2 linked regions of the Homo sapiens genome follow. The protein of the gene in region 2 purifies or fractionates together with the protein of the main gene of each other region. This does not show direct contact. Each region holds a gene or a part of one and is shown on either strand. Other genes may lie near its edges.

Region 1 (4,128 bases), on a different chromosome or scaffold from region 2:
CATAAGCCATGCAGTATGCTTCATTGCATACAACATCCAAAGGCACATAAAGTAGGCTTGTCTTATTAATAATCCTAAATTTGATCTCTTAGATAAGGTGGTGACAAGCTATCTTTCCATTGTAAGCATTTCCTTCTGCAATTAGCAAGTCATTTGTGGTGTGATATTTTGGCATTAGTAGTTGGTAGGAATTTACCTGCAGTAATCTGATAAACACAGTTGGGAGCAGTCGTTTAGGTATGGCTTTGGAAGTTAGGAAGAAGAAGAAGTGGAGACAATTCTGGAGGAAATACTAACCCATCTACTTTAGGGAACTTGGAATGCTTCTATGTGTTGGCATCAGAGCCTAGGGAGACTAGGAGAGAGGAGGCAGAAAGTAGATGTCAGAAAGCTTTGCCTTCTTTGAAAGTTTGCTTAGGACCATTTTAGCCATAGTAAGCTATGGTAAATAGAAAAGTTCTGAAGTAGTTTGATGTTGGAGGATTGCAAGTGCTTCAACTGGAACATCTGTCCAGTTAGGCTACTAATCCAGTCCTTTTTCATTCCAGTGTTCTATTAATCAGCATTGGCTCACTGAAATAGCAGTTTTCACAAATGAAAAGTCAACTGTAGTTTTAGGTGACAGGAAATTGGATATTTCTATTGACAACATACTTTGTTATTCCAAAAGCAAGTTTTGGAAGATGAGGAATACTTACGACATATTCACTAATTAAATATATAAATCCTGAATAGTTTTTTTCTTGCTTTAGAAAGGAATTAAAAACTTTGAATTTTCAGATTGCTTTAAATAGTGATTTAAATAATGACTTGATTTAATCAGTGCCTTATATCAAAAATTGTATGTTTAGAATTTTGATTTATTTCTCCAGAGCAATTTTAAGGATTCTCTTAACCCTCAGTATACGAGGAAAAGTGTACAATTATCACTATCATCTGGGTCAAAAGGGACTGGTTTTTTTTGCATTTTACGTTATTATGTATAATTTATAGGAGTAAAAATAAAGCATAATGTAAAACAACTTATTGGAGCTTTTAATAAGAATTTCAATACAGCAGATATCTTTGTATGTACTTAGAAAAATAAAAAATAAAAAATCTATTTCATGCATTTAATTACATAACACTCCTACAACAAATATACATCACATTTGAACGCTTTGCATAAACATTCTCATTGTAACACACATTTTTTTCTTTTTGAGTTTCTGTATCTGTACAAAGAACATCTTTCTTTCTTCCCATTTTCAGATCTGTGCAGAAATCATTGTGGTTAGAGGGTAAGACAACATTCCCTTCCTATTTTCTGCAAGTTATTTTCCTAGTTGCATGAGGAATTTCTTCTTGGTAACTTCCAGTTTTGTAACTGAAGCTTTTCCCGTACAATGAAAGTATACTCTGAACTAATATCAGTCATAAGCCATCTTCAAATCATTCTCTTCCAAGTATTGTTTCTGACCCACTTTTTGAATGTGTCACTTCTGTAGTCTTTTTGTAATACAGATCACTTCAGATTAATTTATGCAAGGATTTTAAAATTCATTGATGGTTGAGAATGCACTGAGCTGAGAAGAGTAGGTATAGTTTTCCTTAGGACAATAAGAATCATGAATTATATTCGAAATCCAGATTTTGTGCAGTTGACTTCTTTTGCTTTTCCATTTGTGAAAATTCACAGAAGTTCAATGCTGTTCTTCCTAACAGTGCCAACTAAGGAGAGTTTGATGCTGTGTGATATTCAGCCAAGTCTAAATTTGTAAAAAATTTGTCACAAGTTATATGTCTGACAGAATTTTGAAATTTTTCTGTCATTTCGTATATATCAATCTTGATTCTACTTTCATGCCTTTTCCCAATCTCTGTGTAGATCTGCATTGTCCAAGCTTATCATATTTCATTGTCACCTGTTGCTCAGATTTTCATTTCATGTTTTTCACCTTTTGAAGGTATTTCTACCTGAAATGGGCAACATCATCTGAATGGAATTAACTATAGATGCTCCTTGAATTACGATAGGTTACATCCTTGATAAACCCGTCATTAGTTGAAAGTATCATGAGTTGAAAATGCATTTAATACACCTAACATACTGAACATCGTAGCTTGGCTTAGCCTACCTCAAATATGCACAGAACATTTATATTAGTCTACAGTTGGGCAACATCATCTAACTCAAAGCTTATTTTTTAATAATAAAGTGTTGAGTATCTCATGTAATTTATTGAGTACTGTACTGAAAGTGAAAAACAGAATGGTTGTATGAGTACTGGAAGTAATGAATGCACTTTCACACCATTATAAAGTTGAAAATTGTTGTAAGTTGAACCATCTTAAGTTGGAGACTGTCTGTACTTAGCAACTTTCATACAAGACCCTGGAACTATTTGTCTTATAAATACTGATTCTAAATTTCAAATGCTTCCCTGATAGGTTCTTGCTTGTCATTCCTTCTGGGTTGTCTTTTTGCATGTACATCATCAAAATGCAATACTGGAAGAATTTTTGAAACCTTTGATGGTTCATAATTTTGTTGAAGACAGGACGGCCATCTTCTTTGCTCCACAATTGCAAGATTTTTCAATTTCAGATTTATGAGCAACTAACTAGAATGATCAATCCAATGAATTTTTTAAAATGTCTATATTTTCTATTTCCTTCCAGTCACCTTTGCATACCCCTGCATTCAATACTTGGGCACTTAAGCGTTGTATCAAGGCCGGGTGTGGTGGCTTATGCCTGTAATCCCAGCACTTTGGGAGGCCAAGGCAGGATTGCTTGAGCCTAGGAGTTTGAGACTAGCCTGGGCAACATAAGAAGACCTTGTCTCTACAAAAAATAAAAAATTAGCCGGGTGTAGTGGCATGTGCCTGTGGTCCCAGGTACTTGGGAGGCTGAGGTGGGAGGATCGCTTCAGGTCTGGGTTGCAGTGAGCTGCAATTGTGTCACTGCACTCCAGCCTGGGTGACAGAGTGAGACCCTGTCTCTTAAAAAAAAAAAAATGTATTAAGTAAAATTTTAGCACACACTTGTAAAGGATGAAAGACTGTCACATTTTCTTTGAGCAGAACAGCATGGTCCATATTCTTAATGTAAAAATATTGTGTGATGAAGTTCTTCCCACTGGATGAGAATGCCGTATTTCCTTTTTGTTTTTAGAAATACGTTATTCTCTCATTGATTAAGTTTGAGGGAATTTATCTAAAGTAACTCATCCAAGGACTCAGTCTGAGATTTCCCTTATAAAGTCATTTTCACTACCATCATTAAGAGTCTAAAGTGCTGCTGTCTATCTTTGTGTTAATCTTCTGGTTCGTCTAATAGTTGTGAAATGCCTTCCTCTGTTAATTTTCTTCTCTTCCATTTTGGGCAGAAAATGAAGTCTGAGTTCTTAATTGTATTCAGTGAAAACTAGAAACAGATGAAGGGGATCAGAATCTGCCACTTACGCATGAGGATTATTTTGAGTTGAAGGCAATTGAGAGTCAGTAGATGCTGGAAGAGTTCTGTGCCCTCCCCTTATTTGCCTAGTAGTAGCAGGGCATTAATTTCTATCTTTTTTCTTTTTTTTCTTTTTGAGACCGTGTCTTGCTCTTGTTGTCCAGGCTGGAATGCAATGGCGTGATCTCAGCTCACTGCAGCCTCCACTTCCCGGGTTCAAGTGATTCTCCTGCCTCAGCCTCCCGAGTAGCTGGAACTACAGGCGTGCGCCACCATGCCTGACTAATTTTGTATTTTTAGTAGAGACGGGGTTTTGCCATGTTGGCCAGGCTGGTCTCGAACTCCTGACCTCAGGTGACCCACCTCCCAAAGTGCTGGGATTACAGGCATGAGCCACCACGCCCAGCCAGTTTCCTTCTTATAACAGGGAGGGAAGAGCAACTCTTTTCCCTTGAGATTGAGAGTCAAGGCAGAGATGAGTTTGTATAAACAAATTTTACTAAAATAACCGTTATTTTCCATTAGTTCTCCCATTTTTTCTAGTCACTTTCCCATGGTTTATTGTCCCTGAAATTCCAAGTTCCCTTTTTTGGGGGGGTTAAAATAGTATAAAAGCCTCTACGTCTAACCACTTGTTTGAGTTTCACTTCTTTTCTGTGAACTCCTGTGCATGTCAATATTAATAAAAAT
Region 2 (4,128 bases):
TTATGTTTATTTACAGGGGTGGAGGTGGCTCACACCTGTAATCCCAGCAGTTTGGGAGGCCGAGTTGGGCGGATCGCTTGAGCCTGAGCAGCATGGCGTGGCCCCTTCTCTACAAAAAATACAAAAAACAAAACAAATCAAAAAAATTAGCCAGGCGCTGTGGCGAGTGCCTGTAGTCCCAGCTACTTACGAGGCTGAGGTGGGAGGATCATTTGAACCCGGGAGGCAGAGGTTGCAGTGAGCAGAGATGGTGCACTGTGCACACTCCAGCCCGGGTGACAGAGAAAGATCCTGTCTCAAAAAAATAAAAAATAAAAATAAAATTGTATCTTAGCAATTATCACCTAGCATTTTGATACGAAGTTGAGTGAAGCAATGGTTAACAATTAAAGAATTTATTGGCGCAATCTAAATATAGTACCAGGGATACTAGGAGCTAGAAATTATGTCTTAGTTTCTAACCTTGAGATTATTATTTAACTTTTTCTGTTTAAGCTTTTCCTGTAAAACTGGGATAGTCACACGCTTCAAGAAGGCAAAGATGAATAAACGTTTGTCAAAGTTAATGGGCTTCAGAATTAATATTCTGTCAGTGTTGATGCTCAGTGCTTGTGTAACCCTTAGTTTTGCATTTACTTTAAAAAATGAATTAGTTTACATTCTATGTAATTTTTATGAGCAAAAGTTCAGTTTCTGGAGAATGTGGTGAAACCCACAGAAACAGGAGTTGCTTATGATCCGTAGTTTATAGATTTTTATTTTTGAGTGAGGTAGAAGATTAATAGATTTTTTGAATTCTGAGTAGCAGAATAGAAACGAAAGGCATTAAATGTTTTTCTTATTAACAGTGTTGTTTTGCTCATTCTGGAAATAAGCCACCTGCCCCCCCTTTGCTTATTTAAATGAGAATTTGCTTAAAGCTTAAGTGGGAGGAGGGAAGAGTAAGTAGAGGATGGGCATAGTAGAGCGCCCGTCATAAATTTTAAATTTTTTTATATATTTTATTTTATTTTTGAGAGATGGGGTCTTGCTACATTGCCCAGGTATGATCATAGCACACTACAACCTCAAACTCTTAGGCTCAAGTGATCCTCCTGTCTCAGCTTTCTTTTCTTTCTTTTTTTTTTTTTTTTTTTTTAAAAAAGATGTAGTTTAACTCTGTCACCCAGGCTGGTGTGCAATGGCGCAATCTGGGCTCACCACAACCTCCGCCTCTTGGGTTCAAGCAATTCTCCTGCCTCAGCCTCCTGAGTAGCTGGGATTACAGGCATGTGCCACCATGCCCGGCTAATTTTGTATTTTTACTAGAGACAGGGTTTCTCCTTGTTGGTCAGGCTGGTTCCGCCCCTCTTGGCCTCCCAAAGTGCTGGGATTACAGGCGTGAGCCACCACGCCCGGCCCTGTCTCAGCCTTCTAAGTAGCTGAGACCTCAGGCATACACCACCATGCCCAGCTCTTAAATTTCCTTGTATCTTTTCAAAGTTAGCTTTAATATGGGCAATATAACCAACTCATTTTCTTAAAATTGACTTAGAATAAGTATATAGAATAACCAGAAGTAATTTCTTGCATTTACTTGTTTTAGGATTATTACTGTATTTATTATACAAAAATTGGTTATAATTGGAACCTTTTAGACTAGTTAATTGTATTAGACTGGGCCAGTAGTCACTCATTCAACATTTCTATTGAACATCTACTGTATACAGGCTAGGCAAGGATGATCATGGTCCCTGGCTTCAAAGAGTTTATAGTCTCTGGAGGAAGGTAGACAGATAATCGTAGTAAACTATGATTTATATATTTTATCACTGAGGTGAGTACAGTAAAGAGGGAGGTTATTTGGGAGTTTTAAAAGAAACATTCCAACAGAGGAGTTGTTCTAAAGAGATTTTAAAATAATAGTTCGTTGGAAAAATTGGCCATTGTAATAGTTGATTTGTTGGAGTATGATATTTGCTGACAGCACTATATACTGGACTGGCCGACTGGTTGATTGTAACTGTTATTGACCATTGATCAGTAGTGATCTGGTGGCTGACAGTTGTTTTGAAGGGTTGAATTACAGTCGTGTGTGTATGTGTATACATACGTACATGTGTTTGTATATATATGTGTGTGTGTGTGTGTGTGTGTATATATATGCAAGGACCTAGGTTTAGATGTTACAGAGGATATAAGATACAGGAGACTCTAATAAAAAAATATGTTTGTGTGTATATATACATATATACGATGTGTGTGTGTATACATACATGTATACGGTGTGTGTGTGTGTATATATACATATATATGATGTGTGTGTGTATATATATATATATAATTTTCTTAGTTCATATAAGCAGGGCTTCTCAACTGGGCATAGTACTTTCCCTACCTCCAGTTCTCTCTTTGATGGCACTTAGAAATATGTGGGATCAGGTTTTTGGATGTTGCTATGACTAGGGATGTGGTACTGGCATTTAGTGCCCATGAGCTTCAATGCTAAGTTTTCTGAAGTGATCAGGACCGTCCCAACAAATGAAAGCGTAATTCCTCTAAGTACCCTTTTCAGAAACATTGAACAGAAAGAAAAATAGTATATCTAGAAGATTTTTTTTTTTAGTCCTTCTACTCTTTTCATATTGAGATAGTTAAGCTCCAGAAATATACTTTATTTGGAACAGGTCCAGGTAAATGATATTCAACAATATTTAAGTATAATTTATACTGACCATGAGAGGTCAAGAAACTTTCTACTTTCTTAGCAGAAATTACAAGCAATTGCATAAACAGTTAGTAAAACAACTTTTGCTAGGTTAAAGAGGGTAGCAAATTCAGCATAATTATCCTGATTAAAGAAAAGATTTGACATTTTGATATAATAAATTCTGTACTTTTAAGAAAGCATTTATATGCAAGGACCTAGGTTTAGATGTTATAGGAGATAAAAGATACGGGCAACTAGTGGGATATAAATTAGTAAGATAATATTTAAATATCACTTCAAAATGACAGCTGAAAAGATGTCAAAAGGCAGTGTATTAACTAACAAATTGTTTTGCTTTATTTTTATTTTTTTGAGACAGGGTCTCCACTCTGTCACCCAGGTGGGAGTGCAGTGACACAGTCACGGCTCACTGCATCCTTGACCAACTGGGCTTAAGCGATCCTCTTGCCTCAGCCTGAGTAGCTGGGACCACAGGTGCACATCAACATGCCTAACTTTAAAATTTTTTGTGGAGACAAGATCTCCCTACATTGCCCAGGTTGGTCTCAAACTCCTGTGCTCAAGCAGTCCTCCCACCTTGGTCTCCCAAAGTGCTGGGACTATAGGCGTGAGCCACTGCACCCAGCCTGGTTTTGCTTTTTTGTTGTTTGTTTTGTTTTGTTTTAAATTGAAAATGTACTAATTGAAATGGTTTTTTAAAATTCACCCTGAGAAAGGGCATACAATGAAAACTTGATCTTTTTCCCATTCTAGAGTTCCAGTCTCATTTCCACAAAGACAAATCCCCTAATGGTTTCCAGAACTAGTTTGCTCTTTTTAAGAAAATAAAGATAACTACACTGTATCTTGCTTTCCCTCCCCCCAAAAGCATCTTCTAGCTCATTCCATAGCTGCTCATGTAAGTTTTTGGCTTTCCCTATTATAGTATATAGTAATTCTAGTCTATGGCTGGGTCTAATTAATCAGTTCATTATCAGTGGATATTTAGGAGAGTAAGTTAATTTTATGTATAGCAACTTAAAGAGTTCAAAGTAGGTAGTAAGCACTTCAGGCTGGGGTATCAGGGAAGGCTTTCCTGAGGAGGTACTATTTGAGCTAGTCTTCATTACCTTTGTTAGCCATTATTGGTGCCTGATTGGTATAAGAAATAAAAACCAAATTAAAACTGTTAGAGCTACAGAATGTTTAGATTACATATTTAGGACATTTCTTTGTATATTTTATGTCTCATCAGTTTGATACAAGTTGATTCTTTTGTTTATATACATGTTACATTATAACTGCAAGATCTTTGAAACTAAGCATTTTCCTTAAAAATTAGACTTTCTTTTTGACTATTAGAGGCTATCTTAATTTGTAGGACACTTTAAATCAGAAGAAAAGACAGCTTGCTTGTTAATTAGTGATAATTACTTTAG

Evidence for each region. Proteins that work in one complex are often made in the same cells at the same time.
Region 1: the proteins of ZNF292 (region 2) and ZNF280D purify together in Homo sapiens (affinity purification with mass spectrometry, with the first as the bait; one large-scale study listed by BioGRID). This does not show direct contact.

Annotation. Positions count from the first base shown.
Region 1 is NC_000015.10:56,726,906-56,731,033, reverse strand, and holds part of ZNF280D (zinc finger protein 280D), read left to right. Parts: intron 1-4,128. UniProt on the Homo sapiens protein: May function as a transcription factor.
Region 2 is NC_000006.12:87,158,379-87,162,506, forward strand, and holds part of ZNF292 (zinc finger protein 292), read left to right. Parts: intron 1-4,128. UniProt on the Homo sapiens protein: May be involved in transcriptional regulation.